7 linked regions of the Homo sapiens genome follow. The protein of the gene in region 1 purifies or fractionates together with the protein of each later gene. This does not show direct contact. Each region holds a gene or a part of one and is shown in the gene's direction. Other genes may lie near its edges. The genes, in order: ATL3, ESYT2, TMEM109, SPAG1, ARCN1, ATP13A2 and ETFB.

What was found.
Region 2: the proteins of ATL3 (region 1) and ESYT2 purify together in Homo sapiens (affinity purification with mass spectrometry; one large-scale study listed by BioGRID and IntAct). This does not show direct contact.
Region 3: the proteins of ATL3 (region 1) and TMEM109 purify together in Homo sapiens (affinity purification with mass spectrometry; one large-scale study listed by BioGRID and IntAct). This does not show direct contact.
Region 4: the proteins of ATL3 (region 1) and SPAG1 purify together in Homo sapiens (affinity purification with mass spectrometry; one large-scale study listed by BioGRID and IntAct). This does not show direct contact.
Region 5: the proteins of ATL3 (region 1) and ARCN1 purify together in Homo sapiens (affinity purification with mass spectrometry; one large-scale study listed by BioGRID and IntAct). This does not show direct contact.
Region 6: the proteins of ATL3 (region 1) and ATP13A2 purify together in Homo sapiens (affinity purification with mass spectrometry; one large-scale study listed by BioGRID and IntAct). This does not show direct contact.
Region 7: the proteins of ATL3 (region 1) and ETFB purify together in Homo sapiens (affinity purification with mass spectrometry; one large-scale study listed by BioGRID and IntAct). This does not show direct contact.

The regions. Positions count from the first base shown.
Region 1 is NC_000011.10:63,661,377-63,664,876, reverse strand, and holds part of ATL3 (atlastin-3), read left to right. Parts: intron 1-3,500. UniProt on the Homo sapiens protein: Atlastin-3 (ATL3) is a membrane-anchored GTPase that mediates the GTP-dependent fusion of endoplasmic reticulum (ER) membranes, maintaining the continuous ER network. It facilitates the formation of three-way junctions where ER tubules intersect.
Region 2 is NC_000007.14:158,730,497-158,733,003, reverse strand, and holds the end of ESYT2 (extended synaptotagmin-2), read left to right. Parts: 3' UTR 1-2,007; downstream 2,008-2,507. UniProt on the Homo sapiens protein: Tethers the endoplasmic reticulum to the cell membrane and promotes the formation of appositions between the endoplasmic reticulum and the cell membrane. Binds glycerophospholipids in a barrel-like domain and may play a role in cellular lipid transport.
Region 3 is NC_000011.10:60,917,158-60,920,550, forward strand, and holds part of TMEM109 (voltage-gated monoatomic cation channel TMEM109 precursor), read left to right. Parts: intron 1-458; exon of another isoform or gene 459-1,996; intron 1,997-2,528; 5' UTR 2,529-2,536; coding exon 2,537-2,773; intron 2,774-3,393. UniProt on the Homo sapiens protein: Functions as a voltage-gated monoatomic cation channel permeable to both potassium and calcium. Plays a role in the cellular response to DNA damage.
Region 4 is NC_000008.11:100,238,587-100,242,404, forward strand, and holds the end of SPAG1 (sperm-associated antigen 1), read left to right. Parts: intron 1-653; coding exon 654-818; intron 819-1,816; coding exon 1,817-2,185; intron 2,186-2,304; coding exon 2,305-2,436; 3' UTR 2,437-3,318; downstream 3,319-3,818. UniProt on the Homo sapiens protein: May play a role in the cytoplasmic assembly of the ciliary dynein arms. May play a role in fertilization. Binds GTP and has GTPase activity.
Region 5 is NC_000011.10:118,585,909-118,589,408, forward strand, and holds part of ARCN1 (coatomer subunit delta), read left to right. Parts: intron 1-3,500. UniProt on the Homo sapiens protein: Component of the coatomer, a cytosolic protein complex that binds to dilysine motifs and reversibly associates with Golgi non-clathrin-coated vesicles, which further mediate biosynthetic protein transport from the ER, via the Golgi up to the trans Golgi network.
Region 6 is NC_000001.11:16,991,429-16,994,928, reverse strand, and holds part of ATP13A2 (polyamine-transporting ATPase 13A2), read left to right. Parts: intron 1-1,093; coding exon 1,094-1,300; intron 1,301-2,347; coding exon 2,348-2,443; intron 2,444-2,526; coding exon 2,527-2,686; intron 2,687-2,799; coding exon 2,800-2,920; intron 2,921-3,070; coding exon 3,071-3,195; intron 3,196-3,500. UniProt on the Homo sapiens protein: ATPase which acts as a lysosomal polyamine exporter with high affinity for spermine. Also stimulates cellular uptake of polyamines and protects against polyamine toxicity.
Region 7 is NC_000019.10:51,356,389-51,359,888, reverse strand, and holds part of ETFB (electron transfer flavoprotein subunit beta), read left to right. Parts: intron 1-3,500. UniProt on the Homo sapiens protein: Heterodimeric electron transfer flavoprotein that accepts electrons from several mitochondrial dehydrogenases, including acyl-CoA dehydrogenases, glutaryl-CoA and sarcosine dehydrogenase.

The DNA.
Region 1 (3,500 bases):
CCCAGCACTTTGGGAGGCTGAGGCAGGTGGATCACAGGGTTAGGAGTTCGAGACCAGCCTGGCCAATATGGTGAAACCTTCTATCTACTAAAAATACAAAAATTAGCCGGGCATGGAGGTGCATGCCTGTGGTCCCAGCTGCTCGGGAGTCGCTTGAACCCGGGAGGCGGAGGTTGCGCTGAGCCAAGATCGCGCCACTGCACTCCAGCCTGGGCAACAGAGCGAGACTCCGTCTCAAAAAAAAAAAACAAAAAAACAATAGCTTATTGTATGTGCTGTGTGTCATTACATTGATATTGCTCATTACATTCACATTGCTCAGTACGCTTTTTTTTAAAAGACAGAGTTTCGCTCTGTTGCCCAGGCTAGAGTGCAGTGGCGCAATGTTGGCTCACAGCAACCTCTGCCTCCCGGGTTCAAGCGATTCTCCTGCTTCAGTCTCCCGAGTAGCTGGGATTACGGGTGCCTACCACCACGCCCAGCTAATTTTTTATATTTTTGGTAGAGATGGGGTTTCACCATGTTGGCCAGGGTGGTCTCGAACTCCTGACCTCAAGTGACCTGCCTGCCTCGGCCTCCCAAGGTGCTGGGATTACAGGCATGGGCCACCGAGGCTGGCCTCGCTCAGTAAACTTTTAATAGTGAAATAGATAAAACAAAAAGATCTGGTATGATGAACTTAATTGTAAAGTCCTGGAAGACTGTTGTGTTGGCTGCTAGGCTTGGCTGTATTTGATGGAGCCTCCAAATAAGTGATTTAAGCAAGGTAGACATTTATTTTTCTTTCACACAGAAGTGAACCAATATGGCAGTTCTGCTATACGAAATCTGACCTCTCTTGTTTCTCCAGCATTCCTGGGGTGTTGCCCTCATATGCCTGGCCCAAGATGATTCACTCCCACTTTTACATCTAGCCAGCAAGCAGGGGGAAAATGCCTGATCTGGAAGTTGTGTCTGTTATTTCCAGTCACTTCCCATTGTTCAGAATTTAGTCACCTGGTCATATCCTAGCTATAAATTTGGGTTGGAAATGTGTTTCTTCTGGGCAGTTGTATGCCCAGCTAAAAATCTATTATATAGCAGGAGGGAGAAATTAATATTGGGGGAACAACCAGACATCTCTGCCACAATCAAGACTTTGTTTTGTATTTCTTTGAGTGCTACACAGTACTTAACACTGTGGCTTATCCCTGAAGTCTGAATAAATTCTTCTCATTAGTTCTTTGTATGAAAGACTGAAGGTCTTTGGATCTTGGATTTACCTGCTGCTGGGGCAATAAGAACCCTAAGAGATTATTCACAGAAGTGTTTCCTTTTTAATCCAGGCAATAACAGGAAAGAAAAGTATTAGTATACATTGATTACAATGATAGCATGACATTTAACCTATATTTATAACTTGTTTTCCAATAGTCTGCAAAAACTTAAAAAGTAGGAAGAAGCCAGCCACAGTGGCTATCATCCACATTCACAGTGGCCTATCATCCCAGCATTCTGGGAGGCTGAGGTGAGAGGATCACTAGAGCCCAGGAGTTTGAGACTAATGTGGGCCACATAATGAGACCCCCATCTCTACAAAAAAATTAAAAAATTAGCCAGGCATGGTGGCACACACCTGTACTGCCAGCTACTCTGGTGGCTGAGGTGGGAGGATTGCTTGAACCCAGGAGTTTGAGGCTGCAGTAAGCTAGGATTGCACCACTGCATTCCAGCCTGTGTGCCAGAGCAAAATACTGTCTCCAAAAAAAAAAAAAGTGCGAAGAACCCTTCTGTTGCTATCTGATACTATAAATGTAAAAAGTGAGCAGCAATTCCAGTAGCTTGAAGGGGAGAGAGTCTTGCAGTCAAACTGTTTTGTCTGCTTTGCCTGCCATGATCGTGTAGCCTTCAGTGCTGGTTAGACAAAGTCATTTTGGAACCATCTTTGTGATTTTGGCCATGTCTGCCTGTCAGTACTAAGCTTTACTTACTATGTCTCCTTAAGTCTACTTTAAATGGACTTCTTGGCTGGGTACTGTGTCGCTGTGATTTTGGCCATGTCTGCCTGTCAGTACTAAGCTTTACTTAATATGTCTCCTTAAGTCGACTTTAAATTGACTTCTTGGCTGGGTACGGTGTCGCTGTAATCCCAACACTTTGGGAGGTTGAGACGAGTGGATCATTTGAGCTCAGGAGTTCAAGACGGGCCTGGGCAACATGGTGAAACACTGTCTCTCCAAAAATACAAAAATTAGCTGGGTGTGGTGATGAATGCCTGTAGTCCCAGCTACTTGGGAGGCTGAGGTGGGAGGATGACTTGGGCCGGAGAGGCAGAGGTTGCAGTGAGGCAAGATTGTGCCATTGCACTCCAGCCTGAGTTATAGAGCCAGACCTTGTCTTAAATAAATAAACAGACTTCTTAAACTTAGCATCCTTCTAAAGAATAATTTATCAAAATACAGATTTGTTGTTTTAAAGTATACATTAACATGCATAATTATTAAAATTACTATGTCCTTTTAACTACCTAAAAACATCTTTAATACCAGTGACACATACTCTTAGGGAAATAGTTCTTTATTCATTCCTTACGCCCCACTGGTAGTTTTTTGTGAACTTCCCATAAGTCCACAGCTACTAAGTGGCTCTGAATTTCTTTCTTTCTTTCTTTTTTTTTTTTTTTTTGAGATAGAGTCTTGCTCTGAAATCTAGGCTGGAGTGCAGTGGCACGGTCTTGGCTCACTGCAGCCTCCACCGTGCAGGTTCAAGTAATTCTCCTGCCTCAGCCTCTGGAGTAGCTGGGATTACAGGCACCCACCACCACGCCCGGCTAATTTTTGTATTTTTAGTAGAGATGGAGTTTCACCATGTTGGACCAGGGTGGTCTCGAACTCCTGACCTCAGGTGACACGCCTGCCTTGGCCCCCAAAGTGCTGGGATTACAGGTGTGAGCCACCATGTCTAGCCTGAATGAATTTCCTTCTTGCTTTCTTTTCACTTTTTTTTTTTGAGACGGAGTGTCACTCTTTTGCCCAGGCTGGAGTGCAGTGGTGCAATCTCAGCTCACCACAACCTCCACCTACTGGGTTCAAGCGATTCTCCTGCCTCAGCCTCCTAAGTAGCTGGGATTACAAGCACGTGCCACCACACCGGGCTAATTTTGTATTTTTAGTAGAGATGGGGTTTCTCCATGTTGGTCAGGCTGGTCTGGAACTCACAACCTCAGGTGATCTGCCCGCCTCGGCCTCCCAAAGTGCTGGGATTGCGCAGGTGAGCCAGCACGCCCGGCCCCTTGCCTTCTCTTCTCTTCTCTTCTCTTTAAGACAGTCTCTCGCTATATTGGCCAAGTTGGTCTTGAACTCCTGGCCTCAAGCAATCCTGCCATCTCAGCTTCTCTAAGTGCTAGGATTACAGGCGTGGATGCTGTGCCTGGCCTGAATTTCAAATTAATTAGTTATCTTTGTGCTTTGGTAGGGAAACTCTGGTAAGGAAAGTATAATATAGTTAGTGCTTAATTTTGA
Region 2 (2,507 bases), on another chromosome or scaffold:
ATCCTGTTTAGACTGTTAAAAGCAGGTTTCTGTACTTAAGAGTCCCCCAGACCTCCTGTGAGGTGAGGCTCTGTTGCAGTGTCGTAGGCTGTGTGTGTCTGTAAAGAAAGAATGCACATATGTAGACGATTAAGTGTATATTATAAGCTATATGCTGAAAATGGCTTCCATAGCCATGAGAACATCTTAAAACTATGTGTAAATATATTAAGGAAAGTATAGCTTTGTAATTTAAATTGGAGCTTTTAGCTTGTTTCATGGAACTATACAACTTGTGGGTAACTCACATGACCAAACAAACCAAAGTGCCTGTGACGGGGCGGGTGGCGTCTACCCACCCTCCCTTCTAGCAGATTCTTATTTTGTTTGAATTTATAAACAAGGCTGGTGGCTGTCTACCCACCCTCCCTTCTAGCAGATTTTGATTTTGTTTCAATTTATAACTTACACTTTGAACCATGGGTTTACTTATAATGGAGTCTGTAGCTTCACAGCATATTTCATGTAATCATAAAGACCAGTATATTCCCTCCTGCTGAATGACATGCGACTGTAAAGCCTCTTTATAAACCATTTCCAATGTTAGTATATAGGATTATTTGGGAAGCGTATCAATACCTTTATAGACAAATACGAACATGTATGCACACAAAACATTTAACTATGGTATTTATGGAAGACAGGTAACAACATTAAATCTAGTTGCTTTCCCTTAGTATTAGATTTGTTGAGGGTTTTTTAAAAATCAGGTCTGTTGAAAGTCTTCTGTCATAATCTATAAAGCAGCAGCACTCATGGAAATTGTAGCATGCCAGTAATTTTTACCAACATCCCATACATCTGAGTTCTGCAGTCCAGTGTGTAATCCGCTCCATGTGTATTTTGCTTAATGGAATGCTTTATTTAAGCACTTAGGCAGAGTAGACACAATTAAAGGTACAAAGCCCAGAGGAAGTGGTAGAGCAGCACCGTGCCTGCCCTGAGGCAGTGGAGTCAGTAGCGCTGTCCCCAGGGCCTTGAGTGCCTGGAGGTGCTTGGCCTCCAGTAGCTGCCTCCATTCTCTTTTAAAAAAAGGGGGTGATTCTGAGGCACTGAAGTGCCTCCCAGATGTGGAGGAGTGAAGCCACCATCGAGGCCACACTCAGCACTCCAGGATCCCAGCGATGTCAGACACTCTTGAGTTGTCAAAACGTTAATTTTCAGTTTTAAATAATCAGTTTATCTAAGAAAAGGGAATTTTAACTTTTCTACCTTGAGCCAAGCCAATGAAGGGAAAATTAATTAACTTAGTAAATTTGAAGTGCAGCTCTGTTAGCTCGTACATGTGGGTTCTTATCCTGATCCTGTGCCTTAAAGTAGGAAGGTGTTTCCAAGTTCAGATTAAAATAGAAGCAGCTGGCCGGGTGCGGTGGCTCACGCCTGTAATCCCAGCACTTTGGGAGGCCGAGGCGGGCGGATGACCTGAGGTCAGGAGTTCAAGACCAGCCTGGCCAACATGGAGAAACCCCATCTTTACTAAAAATACAAAAATTAGCCGGGCGTGGTGGTGGAGCGCACGCCTGTAGTCCCAGCTACTCGGGAGGCTGAGGCAGGAGAATTGCTTGAACCCAGGAGGCGGAGGTTGCAGTGAGCCAAGATCGCACCACTGCACTCCAGCCTGGGCAACAGAGTGAGACTCCGTCTCAAAAAATAAATAAAATAGAAGCAGCCTTGTAACTGTATTTACCATGATAATATATTCTGCACGGTAAGAATTCCTTTTACAGACATTCTTTATCAAGAGGTCGGCCCTTCTTTTTCAGGCACATAAGCCAAATGCAGGCCTGTGTGTAGCTGTGTGTTTTTTCTGTGGTTGCCGCATTTATTCCACCTCCAGCTGGACCCCCCACTGCAAATAGAGAACAGCGGTGGGGGATGGGGGTTAAAAAGTAGAGAACCTCCTTTCTGTTCAACTAATTTCACGTGACAGTGCATGTATTTATTCAATAAAACCTTTATGTTAGCTCAGTCGTGATTTGTTTTTCTCTGTCTTTTGAAGGGAGGTGTTCAGTGTGCAGTCAGATAATTTGAAAGGAGACGTCGTGCACTGTTTCATTTGCTGTCTGCACTCGCGTTTTCCCAGCAGCTACGTCAGAGCAGCTGACATCCTTCCTGTTGTTCCCAGCTCAGTTTGACTCTCCTCTGCCCAGCACATTACACTCCACATGTCAAAAACAGCTCTTCTAAAGGATAATCATACGTAGAAAAAATAAACTTTAAATGTGTTTTTAACTAGGGCTCTGAGAAGTGCAGCGGGGACTGCCGAGACACCTGAACATTGGAACACTGAGGGTGATACTGGAGTATCCCTTCCTGTTGCGTTCATTACTGGTGGTCTGGATCGACTTGAGTGGAGCCCTTGCGCTTTTCCTCGTAGCCGCTCGGCATTTCACACCAGGCACTTCCTTTCTCCTTGACTGTGGGCCTTTGACACCGGGCACTTCCTTTCTCCTTGACTGTGGGCCATC
Region 3 (3,393 bases), 2.7 Mb from region 1:
CCTAAATGTAGTATTTTTAGAACCCTTTCCTAGACTCTCCTCCTTCCCCCTAAGCAAGACTAGGACATCATTCTCTTCCTTCTCCATCCCTCATGGCTCTGGATTTATTGTCAACTCCCTGAGTGCCTGTGTAACTGCAAAAAGTTCAAAAACCTGACTGCTCCTACCTCAGGGGCATGGCTTAGCCTCTGATCATCAGGTCTGAATCATGAAAACTCCTGGAGCTACAGGTTCATTTCTGAACCTGGAGGGGAACAGGGAATTTGCTGGCGCTGTCTGACATTTCTCAAGCACAGTGGCAAGTAGAAGTTGAACTTGTGTACTTTTTCTTGGCTGATCCTTACCTGCTTCAATGAGTTGGCACTTGTTGGGTCTTAACTTGTCTGTGGCATTGTGTTACAAGACCAGAGCACAAAGCACAAAGTTGTTAGGTAATTTTCACCAGTAATTCACTGAGATGATTGGTAGATGCCAAGTTTATTTTAACTCATGAATAATCTGTTGTGTGACTTTTTTTTTTAAGCGTCTTGCTCTCTTGCCCAGGATGGGATACAGTGGCATGATCATAGCTCACTGCAGCCGTGACCTCCTGGGCTCAAGTGATCCTCCCCCCTCAGCCTCCCAAATAGCTGGGAGTACAGGCACGCACCACCACACCTGACTAATTTATTTATTTATATTTATTTTGTAGAGACAGGGTCTCCTATGTTGCCCAGGCTGCTCCCAAACTCCTGGGCTCAAGCAATCCTCCCACCTCAGCCTCCCAAAGTGTTGGGATTACAGGAATGAGCCACTGTGCCTGGCCTGTATGACTTTCTAAATCACTTCTGAGACTTAGTTGGAGACAATACAGCAGAGTTGTTGTGTATGAGGGGTCCAATGTCAGAAGTACCTACATTCAAATGCTGATTTCCCCAGTTAATACTTAACCTGCCTCAATTACTTCAGTAAAATGGGGGATAATAGCAACACCTACCCGATGGGCTGTTGTGACAGTTAAATGAGCGCGGTGGTGCATGGCAAGACCTAGCTGAATGTTAGCTTTTTATTAATAGTATTTCTTTAAAGGTTGTTCATTATACCCTTGCTCACTGTCCTCGTCCATTTTCTGCTTCCTATAACAGAATGCCACTGCCTGCGTAGTTTATAATGAACAGAAATTCATTAGGGTCACAGTTCCAGAGGCTGGGAAGTCTAAGGGCATGGCGCTGGCATCTGGCAAGGGTCATCCTATGGCAGAAGGCAGAACCCAGCACATGAGACAGAGACAGGAAATCAGGCCAAAGTCATCCTTTTTATCAGGAGCTGCATTCCTGGGATAACTAATCCACTCCCAAGATAACGGCATTAATCCATTCATGAGGGCTGAACCCTCATAACCTAATCACCTCTTAAAGGTCCCACCTTTTAATACCATCATCATGGCAATTAAATTTCTTTCTTTTTTTTTTTTTTTTGGTGGAGAAGGGGTCAAACTATTTTACTGAGGGGAATGGGGTGTCAAAGAAGTACTTAGGACCATGAGATCCAACATCCTTGGCTGGACTGGGAGCTCCCAGGCTCTGCAGGAGGTGCAAGAACAGTTAAATTTCAACATGAGTTTTGCTCTTCAAACCATAGCACCTCCATTGGGGGTGGGGAGGTGAGGTCACTCTGTATCAGTGGTTCTCAACTTCATGCAGTGGAACTGCCTAGGGAGCTTTTGCAGATCCAAGGCTAGGCCACACCCAGACAATGATATCAGAACCTCTGGGCTGGGGACACAGACATCAGTACTTGGGAAGCTTCCAGGTGATTCCAGTGAGCAGCCATGGTTGAGACCCACAGTATAACTTGACTCCTAATGAAGATGGGTGGAAGCAGAAGCTTGGGTTCAAATCCTGGCCTTTCTGTGTAGCCCAGTGACCATGGGAAAATGCTTAACTTCTGAGTCACAGTTTCTTCTCGTCTGTACCAGTAGGGGCGAGGAGGATAAAAGCCACCTCACATGATGGTCCTGCAGAGAAGATGACATATGTGCAGTTATTCTTGTTTGAGCACATAACTGAGCACTTTTCTTTATACCATTATATGGCAGTAATCCTACTTGTGTGCTATTTTTAAGTTGTTTTTTATACCAGCTGTATCTTAAGTAGATTATAAGCTCCTTGGGACAGAGCCTTTATAGAGTCTTATAATACTTTTATGCCTATAGCACCTAAGATACAGGGACAGGCCTTCAGATTTTTAGAACTGGCACAAACCTTAGAGAGATCTTCTCGCCAACTCTAAAGTGTTGAATAATACTTGCTGGTTAATTAATATGCAAGTGGTAAAGAATGTGAAAGAGGAACCTGTGAGTCAGATGGTTGTGCCCAGCTTCAGTTGGAAGTCCCAGTCCTTCCTCTCCCAGCTAACAGCACTTTCTTTCCAGGGTTAGTTTGGTGCTTGCTTGGGGTAGGGGTGGAGAAGGATGTTGGGATAATCAGAGCTGAGAGGGTGAGTGTGTCTACCATGGCACTCAGCTCACTGTGCTTCTCTCCTGGCAGACCCAGTCATGGCAGCCTCCAGCATCAGTTCACCATGGGGAAAGCATGTGTTCAAAGCCATTCTGATGGTCCTAGTGGCCCTTATCCTCCTCCACTCAGCATTGGCCCAGTCCCGTCGAGACTTTGCACCACCAGGCCAACAGAAGAGAGAAGCCCCAGTTGATGTCTTGACCCAGATAGGTCGATCTGTGCGAGGGACACTGGATGCCTGGATTGGGCCAGAGACCATGCACCTGGTGTCAGAGGTAAGGAAGGTAGTCCCTGTGTGACTACACACATTAAGGAAAAATAAAAGAAGAAAGGTTGGTAATGGCCACCTCATCTTAGTTCCACATCCTCTCTGGTGCAGAGAGCCCCAAATTCCACAAAAAGAAGCCACACAGCACTTGTCTTTGAATTCCTCGTTATTTGATTGCTGTCCTAGGGCCTTTTAGCTCCACCCCTATCCTTTCCTGGCTCCTGCCCTTTCCTTGCCAGAAAGGCTGGGAAATGAGCCATCTTTATAAGCCCATGTTACTGGGTGACTGTAGAGTCTCACTTTGGTCTAAATCTGACCTAGAATCTCGAAATGGCAAAATATCAAGTCCTGAATCCATTCCTTCACCTGCAGAAGTGGGTTGAGCTTATTGGGAGCCTAAGGCAGGGTTATCTTTTTTTACCTGGTGGCATCCCAAGCATGGTATCACATACTTTTGATAGGCTGGACTGAAGGGCTGAGACAATCATTTATTAAATCCATAATATAGTATAGCTGATAGACTCCTTTTTCACTGGAACATCCTATCCCTTTACAGATGTTCTCCACGCACCTTCATGACTCCCTGGACAGCTAGCAGGCCTCCAGTTTTATAGGGTGACTACTAAA
Region 4 (3,818 bases), on another chromosome or scaffold:
TGGTCATGTCTTGTTAGGTGCCCTTTCTTTCCCTCAACTTCTTCAGTGTATTGTGTGACTCATGGAAGATTAAATGTTGACTCTAGCCAATTCGAAGAGTAAACAACCTGGAAGGATTTTATGGAACAAAAGTATTATAATAACTACCATTTGCATAGTCCTTTATAGGTTTAAGCCACTTATTATTTGTTCATTTATTTCTTGGTACAGCCTTGTGAAAATTTGAATAGAGCTTTTGTTCCCCTTATGTTAAAGATGAGAAGACTGAAGCCCAGAAAGGTTAAGTAGGATCTTAAGTTTCATTGCTAGTAGGTGCTAATACAAGGATGAGTTCATTCTTTCATTTATTCATTCAGCAAGCAACAAGTGCTTATCATGTGTTAGGGACTGGGAAGGTTGTGGTGATACAGAATTTAACTTGCGTTTTCTAACTCCAGATCCTGTGCTTTTTCTTCTATAGTCGATGTTCACTGTATCATGGGTTATACTATTTCAGCTGCATATTCACCCCACAGGCTCACTTTGTAAGAGTGGTATTAATGTGGACCCTGCACACATACTGCACAGCTCACTACATCCACCCCACTCCCACTCAGGTTACTCTAGGCTCCTTCTATTTATGAAAGTTATTTTCTCTGTCTTCCTACTTACAGAATTATCAGAAAAGCTTAATTGATCTCAATAAAGTTATCCTACTAGATCCAAGTATTATTGAGGCAAAGATGGAACTGGAAGAGGTAACTAGACTCCTTAATCTTAAGGATAAGACAGCACCATTCAACAAAGAAAAGGAGAGAAGGAAAATTGAGATTCAAGAGGTATTTGTATTTGATTATCTTTGAAAGTACTCCTTTGGGGACCTTAGACTGGATTCTAAGGTCATATTCCTGTGAGTTCTAAAACATTTTTAATTTTGTGTTTTTATTCTGATGATCAGTGACAAAATTTTAACCAGCAACAAAATGTCTCCTTTGCAATGATAATTAGCCATTGTATTTCCCAACGTGGGTCCATGGATGGTACTGGGAGTCTCTGCATTACTGCAGTTCTTCCTTTCTTTGGCCTCCATCTGTACTGCTCCCACTCCAGAGTACACTGGGAACCAGCGGCCACTGACTTTGCTCCAGGGTAGACCTGGAGAATCCTGACGGGACTGATTTTGTTACAGGGGCCCTGAAAGCCTCACCTCATAGAGATTATCCAGATTGATTCAGACCTTTTTAGCACTCTGAAATATGACTGCCTCATCAGAGATCTCGAACTACCTCAGGATCAAACTGCTTTTGTGATTCAGATAACTAAAATGTTTTTCTCTGCCTAATATTAGGGAAGAATGTTAGGCTGTGAATCCCTGTACATTCATGAATGCTAATACCCCATTTATAGTCTCACATTTCCACTAAGAGTAAGAGGCTAATATGTAAGAGAAGCTAGGAAGGTTTTTTTTCCTCTTTAAGGAGGGAAGAAAAAACTGTTTTAGGAGAATCGAGCAATGTAAGTTCATTTCTCTGTTAAAATTTATTGTGAAAAGGAGATAAAATTGACATAGGCATTTATACAACAATTGTATAAAGTCTAAAAATTAAATTTTGTTGTCATAGTTTCAATGTCAAATAATTTTTTAAAACTTTTATGAATTGGATCTTACACCCTAAAACTTCTCTTCCTAAAAAAAATTATTACAAAGTTTTCACTTGGAACTGGACTACAGTACAGTCTACTTGTAGTTTTCAATTCTCATTCTGACAGACGTACTTAGGATGTATGTGGTGATTGTGGTTCAGTGTCACAATGCATTTTTCTTTTCTTCATGAAGGTGAATGAAGGCAAGGAGGAGCCTGGAAGACCTGCAGGGGAGGTCTCCATGGGATGCCTTGCTTCTGAGAAGGGAGGCAAAAGCAGCAGGTCACCAGAAGACCCTGAGAAACTTCCGATAGCCAAGCCTAATAATGCCTATGAATTTGGTCAGATTATAAATGCTCTCAGTACCAGGAAGGATAAAGAAGCCTGTGCACATCTTTTAGCCATCACTGCACCAAAAGATTTGCCGATGTTTTTAAGTAACAAACTTGAAGGGGATACATTCCTTCTCCTCATTCAGTCTCTGAAAAATAATCTTATTGAAAAAGATCCCTCATTGGTGTATCAGCATCTTTTATACCTGAGTAAAGCAGAAAGGTTTAAGGTAAGTGGCTAAGTATTTTATTAGTAGAAATTGGTTTTATTAGGGTTTCTGTAACTTAAAAATGTTACTTATGCTAACATAGTTGGTTTTTTGTTTTTTTTTTTTTTTGCTTCTTTTAGATGATGTTGACACTAATTAGCAAGGGCCAAAAGGAGCTAATTGAACAGCTGTTTGAGGACCTTTCGGACACACCAAACAACCATTTTACTTTAGAAGATATACAGGCCCTAAAAAGGCAGTATGAGCTTTAAATCAAGATAATTGTTAGATTTCTTCCATGCATGTATGTGTTCCAGGAATGTTAATGAGATGGTATTGTAAAAGAGTTGCATGGATAAAACTTGGCCTAGAAAAGTTTGGTCTGCACTATAAAACATTTTACTTATTTTCCTACATAGAACATGTATATTCTACAATCTGCTTTTTATTAGTTGTAAATATTTTCTTATGTACCAGAACCAAATAAGTATATTTAGAACTTGTTAAAAATACATTTTAATTTATGATATACATATTATTTTAATTACTTGTTAAAATTTTGAGTTAAGTTGCATTTCTTTGGGCTATGAAGGAGTCCTCTTAAGTTTGATAGAAATGAATTTCTTGTAACATTCTTTTTTAAAAGTGGAAGTCATTAACAGTGATTATTATATCACTTATATCCTGCTAAGATACACATAAATCCCATTTTGTACTAGTACCTGTGGATTACAGTCAGTTAAAATGAAATGCAACACTGAAGTCTATAACATGAAATGATTATTAAATTGTTTATTAATTTAGAGCTATAAGAGGAACTTATTTTTTCTAATACGGAAGCATTGCCTAATAATTAAGAACAAAAATTGCCAAAAATTTCTACCACTTTTTACTAGATTTTAAAAAGCTACTTTCTTTTATATTGCCTATATAAGCAAAAAACCAACCACTGTATTAAAGCAAACTAAGCCTGCATTTATATCTGAATTATTACCTCCATATTTTACCAAACATTTGAATGTCCCCCTTCCCCCTTTTTTGTTTTCTGCTTTTATGACTGTATTTATTCCTTTACTGTAAAAGAATATGAAGAACTCATACATGTTGAAAGCTCCTTTGTTGACTGGGTCAAAGTGAAGGAATTTCAATCTCCATCAGTGTACTGTCATTTATTTCTGCGGTCTGTAGTGCGTTCCCCCTTTCTGGAGCATTTTCTTATTCACTTAGAAGTGAAGATGAAAGTTAGTATCATGTTTACTATTTCCATATTCATTATTATTTTATCTAATCTTTTATAGTTACAGAATATTTTAACTCATCTTGGGTAAATATCTTTCAAACTGTGCCATTTTTCTTTGAAACTGCTTTCTTTGTTCATAAGTGAAAAATCTGTAATGGGACTTTAGTCTTCAAACAAAATTTCTCCTTTTTAATGTTATTGAATTTTTATAAAAGTAAATGGTGGATTGTTAGAAATGTATCCTATGTATGGAGTTTACTTACAGAAATGGGACCACTCTTTTCCTATACATAGCAACTTGAAATTAACTTTAGAGACAAAAGGGAACTTTCTCTTTTGGTGCCTGACACAGTGACATTAATAACTGTAGGTGATTTTGTTGAGCTTTGTGATAGGCACTGTGTGTCATTTATC
Region 5 (3,500 bases), about 55 Mb from region 1:
TACTGGTTGGTGACATTTTTAAGTGGTAGTTATCAAGTTCACATATTCGTGACTCAGATTTCTCGTCTTGAAGCCAGACCTTCTACTGTTGCTGATGGTTTTGAGGTCAAGTGAAAGATAATACCAGGAGGATACCTTTATCAGGTGTGCATAAAAGAGGAGTATTTACTCTTTTTCTTTCTTCTTTCCTTTCTTTCTTCCTTTCTTTCTTTCTTGACAGAGTCTTGCTCTGTCTCCCAGACTGGAGTGCAATGGCACGATCTTGCAACCTCCACCTCCCGGGGTCAAGCAATTCTCCTGCCTCAGCCTCCCAAGTGGCTGGGATTACAGGTGCACGCCATCACACCCGGCTAATTTTCTTATTTTTAGTAGAGACAGAGTTTTGCCGTGTTGGCCAGGTGGGTCTCGAACTCCTGACCTCAAGTGATCTGCCTGCCTCTGCCTCCCAAAAGTGCTTGGATTATAGGCGTGAGCCACCGTGCCCAGCCAAGTATTTACTCTTTATATGCCCTGTTCTGTATGAAATGAACAGGGTTACATTGGGATAAATTTCTTGATTCACTAAAGCCGCTGTGCTCTTCCTAGTGGTTGCTTTGAGTGAGACAGAGGCTTCACACTTTTAAAAAGATATTCCTGAGTGCAGTGGCCCACACCTGTAATCTTAGCACTTTGGGAGGCTGAGGTGGGCGGATTGCCTGAGCTCAGGAGTTCAAGACCACCCTGGGCAACATGGTGAAACTCCATCTCCACTAAAATACAAAAAATTAACCCCTTCTCCACTAAAATACAAAAAATTAGATGGGCGTGGTGGCACACACCTGTAGTCCCAGCTACTCAGGAGGCTGAGGCAGGAGAATTGCTTGAACCCGGGAAGCAGAGGTTGCAGTGAGCCAAGATGGTGCCACTGCACTCCAGCCTGGGCGACAGAGTGAGACTCTATCTCCAAAAAAAAAAAAAAAAAAAAAATGTTGGAGATCATCACATATTAAAGAGAATTTGAGACACTGTTTTTTTCTAAATGATAAATTGCCTCTTGAGCACAGAGCAAACTTTTGTGAAGGTAAAATGGTACCATGCATTGTCTTAAGATGCACTCCTTTATGGTCTTGACTCTGATGCCTTTGTTTCTAGGAAGACCTAAGAGGTTGGAACAAAGAACATGGTAGGATAACAAAATATTTTTTGTAGCCTCTGTAGTTCATCCAGCCAAACGTATGTCTATTACTGAATATGAATAGATTGTACTTAATACTTGCCTCTAGCAGCAGCAGTTTTTAATCTTTTAAAAATTGGATTATACATTCATATAGTACAAAATTCAAAAGTTGTTAACAGTCAGAAGTCTTCCTCTCACTCAGCCATGCCAGTTTCTCATTTTGGAGACAACTAGTATTAACAGAGTTTTTTGTGTATCCTTCTAAGGGGGATGGTCTGTGATATACAGATGAATAAAAAACATGTATACAGTGTGTCTATTTTTCCCCCTTTTATGCAAAGCAGTAAAACTAGACACGTCTTCCAATTGCATTTTTCATTTAATTATTTTGGAGATAAGAATCTCCTTATTTGAAACTGCAGAGATATGACATCTAAATGCGCAATACCTTACCCTAGACTGGATCCTCTACTAATGTAGTGTAGAAAAAACAACTCAAACTGTTTGTTTTTTCTATTTTCTCATTCAACAGCAACAATGAACACAGAAGACTTCTGTGATCAAGTGTGTTTAGATTTTTCCGCACACATCAAGCGGTCACACCTAGCTGGTGTCCTCCAATTCAATTCAATTCTGATGCTATCTACCTGGGAATAGCCTCAGATTCTACAGGTTGAGAGTTCAGTCCCCCAAGACTGATTCTTCCTTCCCACCAGTCATAAGTCCAGACTTTCAGAACTTCTTACTGACCTCAAGTTTGGCCTCCCACGACCCCCTCTGGGGTGTTCAATTAATCTGCTAGAGCACCTCACAGAACTCAGGGAAACTTACTTGACATTTATCAGTTTGTTACAGAGGACATTTTAAAGGATGCAAATAAGCAGCCAGATGAAGAGATACATAGGGCAAGGTCTGGGAGGGTCTTGAGCACAGGAGCTTCTGTCCCCAGGGAGCTGGGGTACGCCACCCTCCTGGAAAATAGATGAGACCTTGTTCATCTTCCTGTAAGCCTGCATGTGTTCAGCTGTCCAGAAGCTTCCCAGACCCTGTCCTCTTGAGCCTTTTATGGAGACTTCATTGGATAGGCATGATTGACAGGCATGCAGAAATGTGACTGGGCAAGGGTATGACCTAATACTGATAGGCTGAGTGGGGAAACACAGCAAGGCCTGTCCAAATTCTTGGCCTCTCTGTGCAGCATTAATCTTCCTCCAGGATATGGTGCAGGACCCCTTTTGGAGATCCTGCCTTGGGCTGGTGAAAGGAGGGCAGGAGAAGGTCAAAGAGAGGTTCTTTTTTCTAAGGGCTGCTCCTGAGGCCTAAAGTGCCCCAACATTATGTATAATAAGGGATATGGGAGTTATGAGCTAGGAACCATGGATGAAAACCGGTATGTATGTATATCATAATATCACAACTACTATTAAAAATATTATTAGGTCAACTGACGAAATTGACATATGGTTGACAGATCGGATACAATTATTGTATCATTGTTAGCCTGGCATGATGGCACATGGCTGTAGTCCTTCCTACTCAGGAGGCTGAGGCAGGAGGATCACTTGAGACCAGGAGTTCAAGGTTATAGTGAACTGTGATTGTGTCTCTGAATAGCCACTGCACTCCAGCCTGGGCAACATAGCAAGATCTGTCTCTTAAACAACAACAACAGGCTGGGTGCGGTGGCTCACGCCTGTAATCCCAACACTTCGGGAGGCCGAGGCAGGCAGATCACCTGAGGTCAGGAGTTCAAGACCAGCCTGGCCAGCATGGTAAAACTCTGACTCTAGTAAAAATACAAAAATGAACCGGGCGTGGTGGCAGGTGCCTGAAATCCCAGCTACGCAGGAGGCTGAGACAGGAGAATCACTTGAACCCGGGAGGCAGAGGTTGCAGTGAGCCGAGATCACGCCATTGCACTCCAGCCTGGGCAAGAAGAGTGAAACTCTATCTCAAAACAACAACAACAAAAAGCTAAAAAAACTATCAGTGTAAATTTGTGAAGTTAATAATGGTACTGTGATTGATTATGTAAGAGAATATCCCTAATCTTATAAAATAAGCACTGAAGTATTTAGGGGTAAAGTGCCGTGTTGTATATAATCTGCTTCTTAATGGTTCAGGGAAAAAAAATCAAATGTATAACATACATATATAATGTTTAGAGAGAGAGAAACACAAGTGCAAATTATAAAACAAATGAGGTAAATATTAACAATAGGTGAATCTGGAAAAGGGTATATATGTCTTCCTTGTATAATTTTAATTTTTTTAAGCTTGAAAATACTTACAAATAGAAAGTTTTTTCAGTTGTTTGTTTTCTCACCATTGCCTACTATTCATT
Region 6 (3,500 bases), on another chromosome or scaffold:
GCACTTCGGGAGGCCGAGGCGGGTGGATCATGAGGTCAGGAGTTCAAGACCAGCCTGGCCAATATGGTGAAACCCCGTCTCTACTGAAAATATAAAAAATTAGCCAGGCACGGTGACATATGCCTGTTGTCCCAGTTACTCGGGAGGCTGGGGCAGGAGAATCGCTTGAACCCGGGAGGCAGAGGTTGCAGTGAGCTGAGATCACACCACTGCACTCCAGCCTGGGCAACAGAGTGAGACTCCGTCTCAAAAAAAAATAAATAAACCGGGGAGGGGGATGACCAGATTCTTATAGTTCCCAGGCTAGCCAAGGAGCCAGACGCGTACTTGGGCAGTTAGAGTCTAGGATGGGGAACGCAGGCACTGACTCATGCGCTCATTCAACAGATATATTGAGGCTGGGCGTGGTGGCTCATGCCTGTAATCCCAGCACTCTGGGAGGCCAAGGCGGGTGGATTGCCTGAGGTCGGGAGTTCGAGACCAGCCTGACCAACATGGTGAAACCCCGTCTCTACTAAAAATACAAAAATTAGGTGGGCGAGGTAGCGCGTGCCTATAATCCTAGCTGCTCGGGAGGCTGAGGCAGGAGAATCACTTGAACCCGGGAGGTGGAGGTTGCAGTGAACTGAGATTGCGCCACTGCACTCCAGCGCGGGCGACAGAGCAAGACTCCATCTCAAAAAATAAAAATAAATAAAAATAAAAATAAATAAATAAATAAATAAATAAATGAGAGAGAGAGAGCGAGCCAACCGTGGGCCGGGTCCTTAACCACAATGCACAAGTGTGGGGAAGTGAAGAGGCCATGGGTAGGAGCCCAGAGCAAACCACCTGCCCTAACTTGGGAGTTAAGGAGGAAGACACCCTGGAAGAGATGATGCTAGACAGAGAGACGGTGGGGGCTGGGGAGGGGGACCCCAGCAGAGGGAATCACATGTGCCAAGGACAGCAGTCAAGAAAGGTCATCTTTTGGCTCCAGCTCGAGTTCCTGGGGTTCCCATAGGGTCCGCCGGGCCTGGGGTTTGGAGGCCCAGCTCAGCAGGGTACCCCCATCCCAGGACTCATCGCTGCCCCACCCACCTGTCTCCCACAGACGGGCACCCTCACTGAGGACGGCTTAGACGTGATGGGGGTGGTGCCCCTGAAGGGGCAGGCATTCCTGCCCCTGGTCCCAGAGCCTCGCCGCCTGCCTGTGGGGCCCCTGCTCCGAGCACTGGCCACCTGCCATGCCCTCAGCCGGCTCCAGGACACCCCCGTGGGCGACCCCATGGACTTGAAGATGGTGGAGTCTACTGGCTGGGTGAGGAGGCCAAGCAGGTCAGCCCCCTGCCTCTGGGCAGTGGGGCCTAACGAATCCCACCCTGTCTTCCCTCTCCATCTTTCAGGGTGGTCTCTTATTATGCCCACCATTAATAATAATAGGCCAGGCGCAGTGGCTCACACCTGTAACGTGGCTCCCGGCGCTTTGGGAGGCCAAGACGGGAGGATCACTTGAGCCCGGGACCCCAGCCTGACCTACATGGCAAAACCCCATCTCTGCCAAAAATACAAAAATTAGCCGGGCGTGGTGGTGCATGCCTGTAGTCCCAGGAGGCTGAGGTGGGAGGATTAATTGAGCCCGGGAGGGCGAGGCTACAGGGAGCTGTGATCACGCTACTGCACTCCAGCCTGGGTAACAGAACGAGACCCTGTCTCAAAAAATAATAATGATAGGCCAGGTGCAGTGACTCATGCCTGTAATTCCAGCACTTTGGGAGGCTGAGGTGGGCAGATCACCTGAGGTCGGAAGTTTGAAAGCAGCCTGGCCAACATAGTGAAACCCCGTCTGTAATAAAAATACAAAAATTAGCCAAGTGCGGTGGAACATGCCTGTAGTCCCAGCTACTTGGGAGGCTGAGGGCAGGAGAATCATTTGAATCCGGGAGGCAGAGGTTGCAGTAAGCCGAGATCACACCACTGCACTCCAGCCTAGGTCACAGAGTAAGACTCTGTCTTAAAATAAAAGTAACATAATAATAATGGCAAGGCCTCAGGCTGAGTGCCTACTATGCGCCAGCGCACGGCCACAGAGGCCTGGTCTCATTTCCTCTTCCCCAAGCCCTAGCAAGCAAGCTCAAATGTTGCTTCACGGATGCTGAGGCTGGGAGATTTGGAGTGACGTATTCCAGGTCACCCAACAGCTTGTAAGTAGCAAAGCTAGAGTTTGAATTTGAGTCCACCGGGCTCCAAAGCCCACATTCTTAACCCACCATTCAGTCTCCCATGAAGGAAGTCTTCCCTGAGTCTAGCTCAAATCTCTCTGTGAGCCAAAGCCCCCAGACACCAAACTTCCCTGCCTGCCTGCCAGGTCCTGGAGGAAGAGCCGGCTGCAGACTCAGCATTTGGGACCCAGGTCTTGGCAGTGATGAGACCCCCACTTTGGGAGCCCCAGCTGCAGGCAATGGTGAGCTGAGGGGGGCCTGTTGGGTGCAGGGCAGAGGGGTGGGCTCCCCAGCCAGCACCTCAGCTGCCTCTCCAACCCTGCAGGAGGAGCCCCCGGTGCCAGTCAGCGTCCTCCACCGCTTCCCCTTCTCTTCGGCTCTGCAGCGCATGAGTGTGGTGGTGGCGTGGCCAGGGGCCACTCAGCCCGAGGCCTACGTCAAAGGCTCCCCGGAGCTGGTGGCAGGGCTCTGCAACCCCGAGACAGGTGCAGGGGGAAGCCCCTGAGTCCCCCTGGTTGGGCATTGGCACAGAATGGGGTGGGTACCCAGCCTCTGTCCCTGCCATCCCCTCCTTGTGACACCTGCCTCTCCCTGGCAGTGCCCACCGACTTCGCCCAGATGCTGCAGAGCTATACAGCTGCTGGCTACCGTGTCGTGGCCCTGGCCAGCAAGCCACTGCCCACTGTGCCCAGCCTGGAGGCAGCCCAGCAACTGACGAGGTGGGCCTGTCTCCTGTCCCACCCACTCTGAGGACTAGGCAGAGGGAGGCTCTCACGCAGGCAGAGCCCAAGGAAGATGCCCTGCCTGGTGGCTGGGAGAGGGGCCCTGGCCACTGCATGACCTCTGATCCAGGTCTGCCCACCCTCCAGGGACACTGTGGAAGGAGACCTGAGCCTCCTGGGGCTGCTGGTCATGAGGAACCTACTGAAGCCGCAGACAACGCCAGTTATCCAGGCTCTGCGAAGGACCCGCATCCGCGCCGTCATGGTGACAGGTACAATGGCATGTAGGGGCCCGGGCTAGCAGGGCAGAATCCGCCCCTTCCTGGCAGAGAAGAGGGGCACCAGGGATTCCTTTTTGGGGCATCTTTTTGGGCCCTTGCTTCAGGCCAGGTCCTTTTTAAACATTTCGTGAATCTTCACAATATCCCCCCCGCAAGTGGTAATTGTCACCCCTGTTTGACAGATGAGGAAACTGAGACTCAGAGGAGTGGAGTGACTTCCAAGGAACCCATGTGCGCTGTCAGACAGCCTGGGTTCCAGGTGGCACCTCTGAGAAATGGGGATAATGATGTCAGCC
Region 7 (3,500 bases), on another chromosome or scaffold:
ACGCCACCATGACCTGCTAATTTTGTTTTTTGGTAGAGATGAAGTCTCTCTATGTTGCCCAGGCTGGTCTTGAAATCCTGGGCTCCAGTGATCCTCCTTCCTCAGTCTCCTAAGGTGCTGGGATTACAGGCATGAGCCATCATTATTTAAAAAACAAACAAGCTATCATTTTTCAGCCCTACCATTGTTTCCTGACTTATGTAATATAACTAAACTGTTTTTGAAGCTTAAAATCAACTCAAGCTTAATTGAGAAGATGAGCTAGTTTGTTTCCTCAGGTGTGTGTGCGTGCGTGTGTGTGTGTGTGTCTGGAAAGTTCTTACCCTTTCTCCTCAGGAGTCAGGAGCCTGGGAATCAGGAGCTTAGGGCTGGGAGTTCTGCCAGAGCAAGAGCAAGATGTGGCTTGAGGCCCTTCAGAAGCCTCCCTGACTCACAGCAAGAAGCTTGGGGCCTCTTACTGATGGGTGGATGAGGTTCTTTTCTGTCTTAAAGGGGCAACTCCTATGTTGTGTTTTTTTTTTTAAGAAAAAAGGCCAGGCACTGCGACTCACACCTGTAATCCCATCACTTTGGTAGGCTGAAGCAGGCGGATCACTTTAGGCCAGGAGTTCCAGACCAGCCTGGGAAACACGGGGAAATCCTTTCTCTACAAAAAGTAAAAAAAAAAAAATTAGCCCGGCATGATGGTGCCCGCCTGTGGTCCCAGCTACTGGGGAGGCTGAAGTGGGAGGATCACCTGAGCCCGGGAGGTGGAGGTTGCAGTAAGGCAAGGTGGCACCTCTGCACTCCAGCCTGGGCAACGAGAGAGATGAAAATAACAGTTCTTTCTCTTTCCTCTCCTCTTCCAGCTCCTTCTCCTCTTTCTCCTTTTTCTTTTTCTTTTTCTTTTTTGAGATGAGGTCTTGCTCTGTCACCCAGGTTACATGTAGTGGCATGATCACGGCTCACTGCACCCTTGACCTCCTGGGCTCAGGTGATCCTCCCGCCTCAGCCTCCTGAGTAGCTGGGACTACAGGTGTGTGCCACCATACCTGGCTGTTTTTTTTTTTTTTTTTTTGTTGTTGTTTGTTTGTTTGTTTTGAGGCGGAGTCTTGCTCTGTCGCCCAGGCTGGAGTGCCGTGGCGCAATCTTGGCTCATTACAACCTCCACCTCCTGGGTTCAAGCAATTCTCCCTGCCCCAGCCTCTGAGTAGCTGCAATTACAGGCGTGCACTACCATGCCCGGCTAATTTTTTATTTTATTTTTATTTTTAGTAGAGATGGGGTTTTGCCATGTTGGCCAGGCTGGTCTTGAACTCTTGACCTCAGGTGATCCGCCCACCTTGGCCTCCCAAAGTGCTGGGATTACAGGCATGAGCCACCACGCCCAGCTGTTTTTGTTTTTGTTGTTGTTGTTTGTAGAACCTGTTGCCCAGGCTAGTATCCAACTCCTGGGCACAAGTGATCCTCCCACCTTGGCCTCCCAAATTTCTGGGATTACAGACAGGAGCCACTGCGCCCGGTCTCAGTCCTCCATCTTTTAATGTTACCCTCTCCATGAGGCACAGCCAGAGTGGGAAGCCCCTTATGGGTCCCACCTTCTCATCTCGGATTCTGTCCTGCCTGTGGGAGGAACAGTTACACCCACAGCCCCAGAGAAAAAGGGGCAGGGAAATAGCAAGAGCATCCCAGTGTCCTCACCAGGCTCAGCTGCCACCCGAGATCTGCTCTGGCCAAGCCCTGGGTGGCGGCCACATGGGAGAAGAGGAAGAGGGCAGGCTCCAGGCCAAATGGGGCAGCTCCCTAGCAAGGCTTCTGTGGATGTCCCTGGAGGCTTTTTAAAAATTTGTGCCCCAAACCAAACTCGCCGTCTTCCCGGCTCTGGCTGATGTACTGACTGGAAGCCCCTTTTTGGTGTCATCTTCCCATCACGAACCATGGCCTGTCAGTTGCACCTCCAGAAACCTCTTGCATCTGTCTCTGCTGTCACAGCTGTCTGAGCCACTGTCACCTCTCACTTTGGTGACAAACAGCCACCCAGCTCTCTCCCCACTTCCTCTCATCCTTTTCCAATTTTCTCCACCAAGAATCCAGAATGACCTTATAAAAACTCAGGTTGGGCCAGGAGCGGTGGCTCACGCCTGTAATCCCCTGCCTTTGAGAGGCCGAGGTGGGTGGATCACCAGAGATCGGGAGTTCGAGACCAGCCTGGCCAACATAGTGAAACCCTGTCTCTATTAAAAATACAAAAAATTAGCTGGGCGTGGTGGTGGGCACCTGTAATCACAGCTACTCAGGAGGCTGAGGCAGGAGAATCGCTTGAACTGGGGAGGCAGAGGTTGCAATGAGCTGAGATCATGCCACTGCTCTCCATCCTGGACAACAGAGCAAGACTCCATCTCAAAAAAAAAAAAAAAAAGAAAGAAAGAAAAAAAGGATTGTGGTGGGCCAAGAAATAAAATAGCCCTCCAAAACAGCCAGGTTTCAATCCCTGGCACCTGAGAAGGGGAAATCACTTAGAAACAGGGTCTTTGCAGGCTGGCCATGTTGGCTTATGCCTGTAATCCCAGCACTTTGGGAGGCCGAGGAGAGCAGATCACCTGAGGTCAGGAGTTCAAGACCAGCCTGGCCAACATGGTGAAACCCTGTCTCTACTAAAAATACAAAAATTAGCCAGGCGTGGTGATGCATGCCTGTAATCCCAGCTACTTGGGAGGCTGAGGCAGGCAAATTGCTTGAACCCGGGAGGCAGAGGTTGCAGTGAGCCGAGATTTCACCACTGTACTCCAGCCTGGGCGACAGAGCGAGAGCCCATCTAAAAAAAAAAAAAAAAGAAATTAGAAACAGGGTCTTTGCAGATGTGATTAAATTAAGCATCTTGAGATGGGGGCATTATCCTGGATTATTTAGGTGGGCCCTGAATGCCATCTCAAGAGTCCTTATAAGAGAGAGACAGAGGGAGACTAGACACGCAGAGAGAGGAGAAGGCCACGTGAAGACAGAGCTGAGGATGCTGGCATTGAAGATAAAGCGATGCAGCCACAAGCCAGGGAGTGTCAGCAGAAGCTGGAGGAGGCAAGAAACGTGTTCCTCCCGGGGCCTGCAGACCCCTTGGTCTCACCCTGGTGACACTGACTTTGGACTTCTGGCCTCCAGAGCTGTAAGATTCTAAGCCACCAAATATATGGTGATTTGTTACGGCAGCCGAGAGAAACTAATAGGAGAGTGGTTAGTGGTTCACGCTACACCCTGGTCTACACCGGAAGCCTCTCTCCCTGGCACATGATGGTGTCCCCAGGATCCAGCTCAGAGCCAGGCACACAGTGGGGCCCAGGAGAGACAAAAATGATGTGCAGAAGCAAATGGGTGGGGTTTGCCACCCACCTCCCTTACCTCCCTTGTCTGTTTAGCAAAGAGGTCTTTCATGCTGGTGTTTTCCAAATTAGGTTGTGACCATGTGTGATCATGACATCCAGGCAGAGGGCTGGCATTTTTCCGAAAAAGGGTAGAAAATGTCAGAG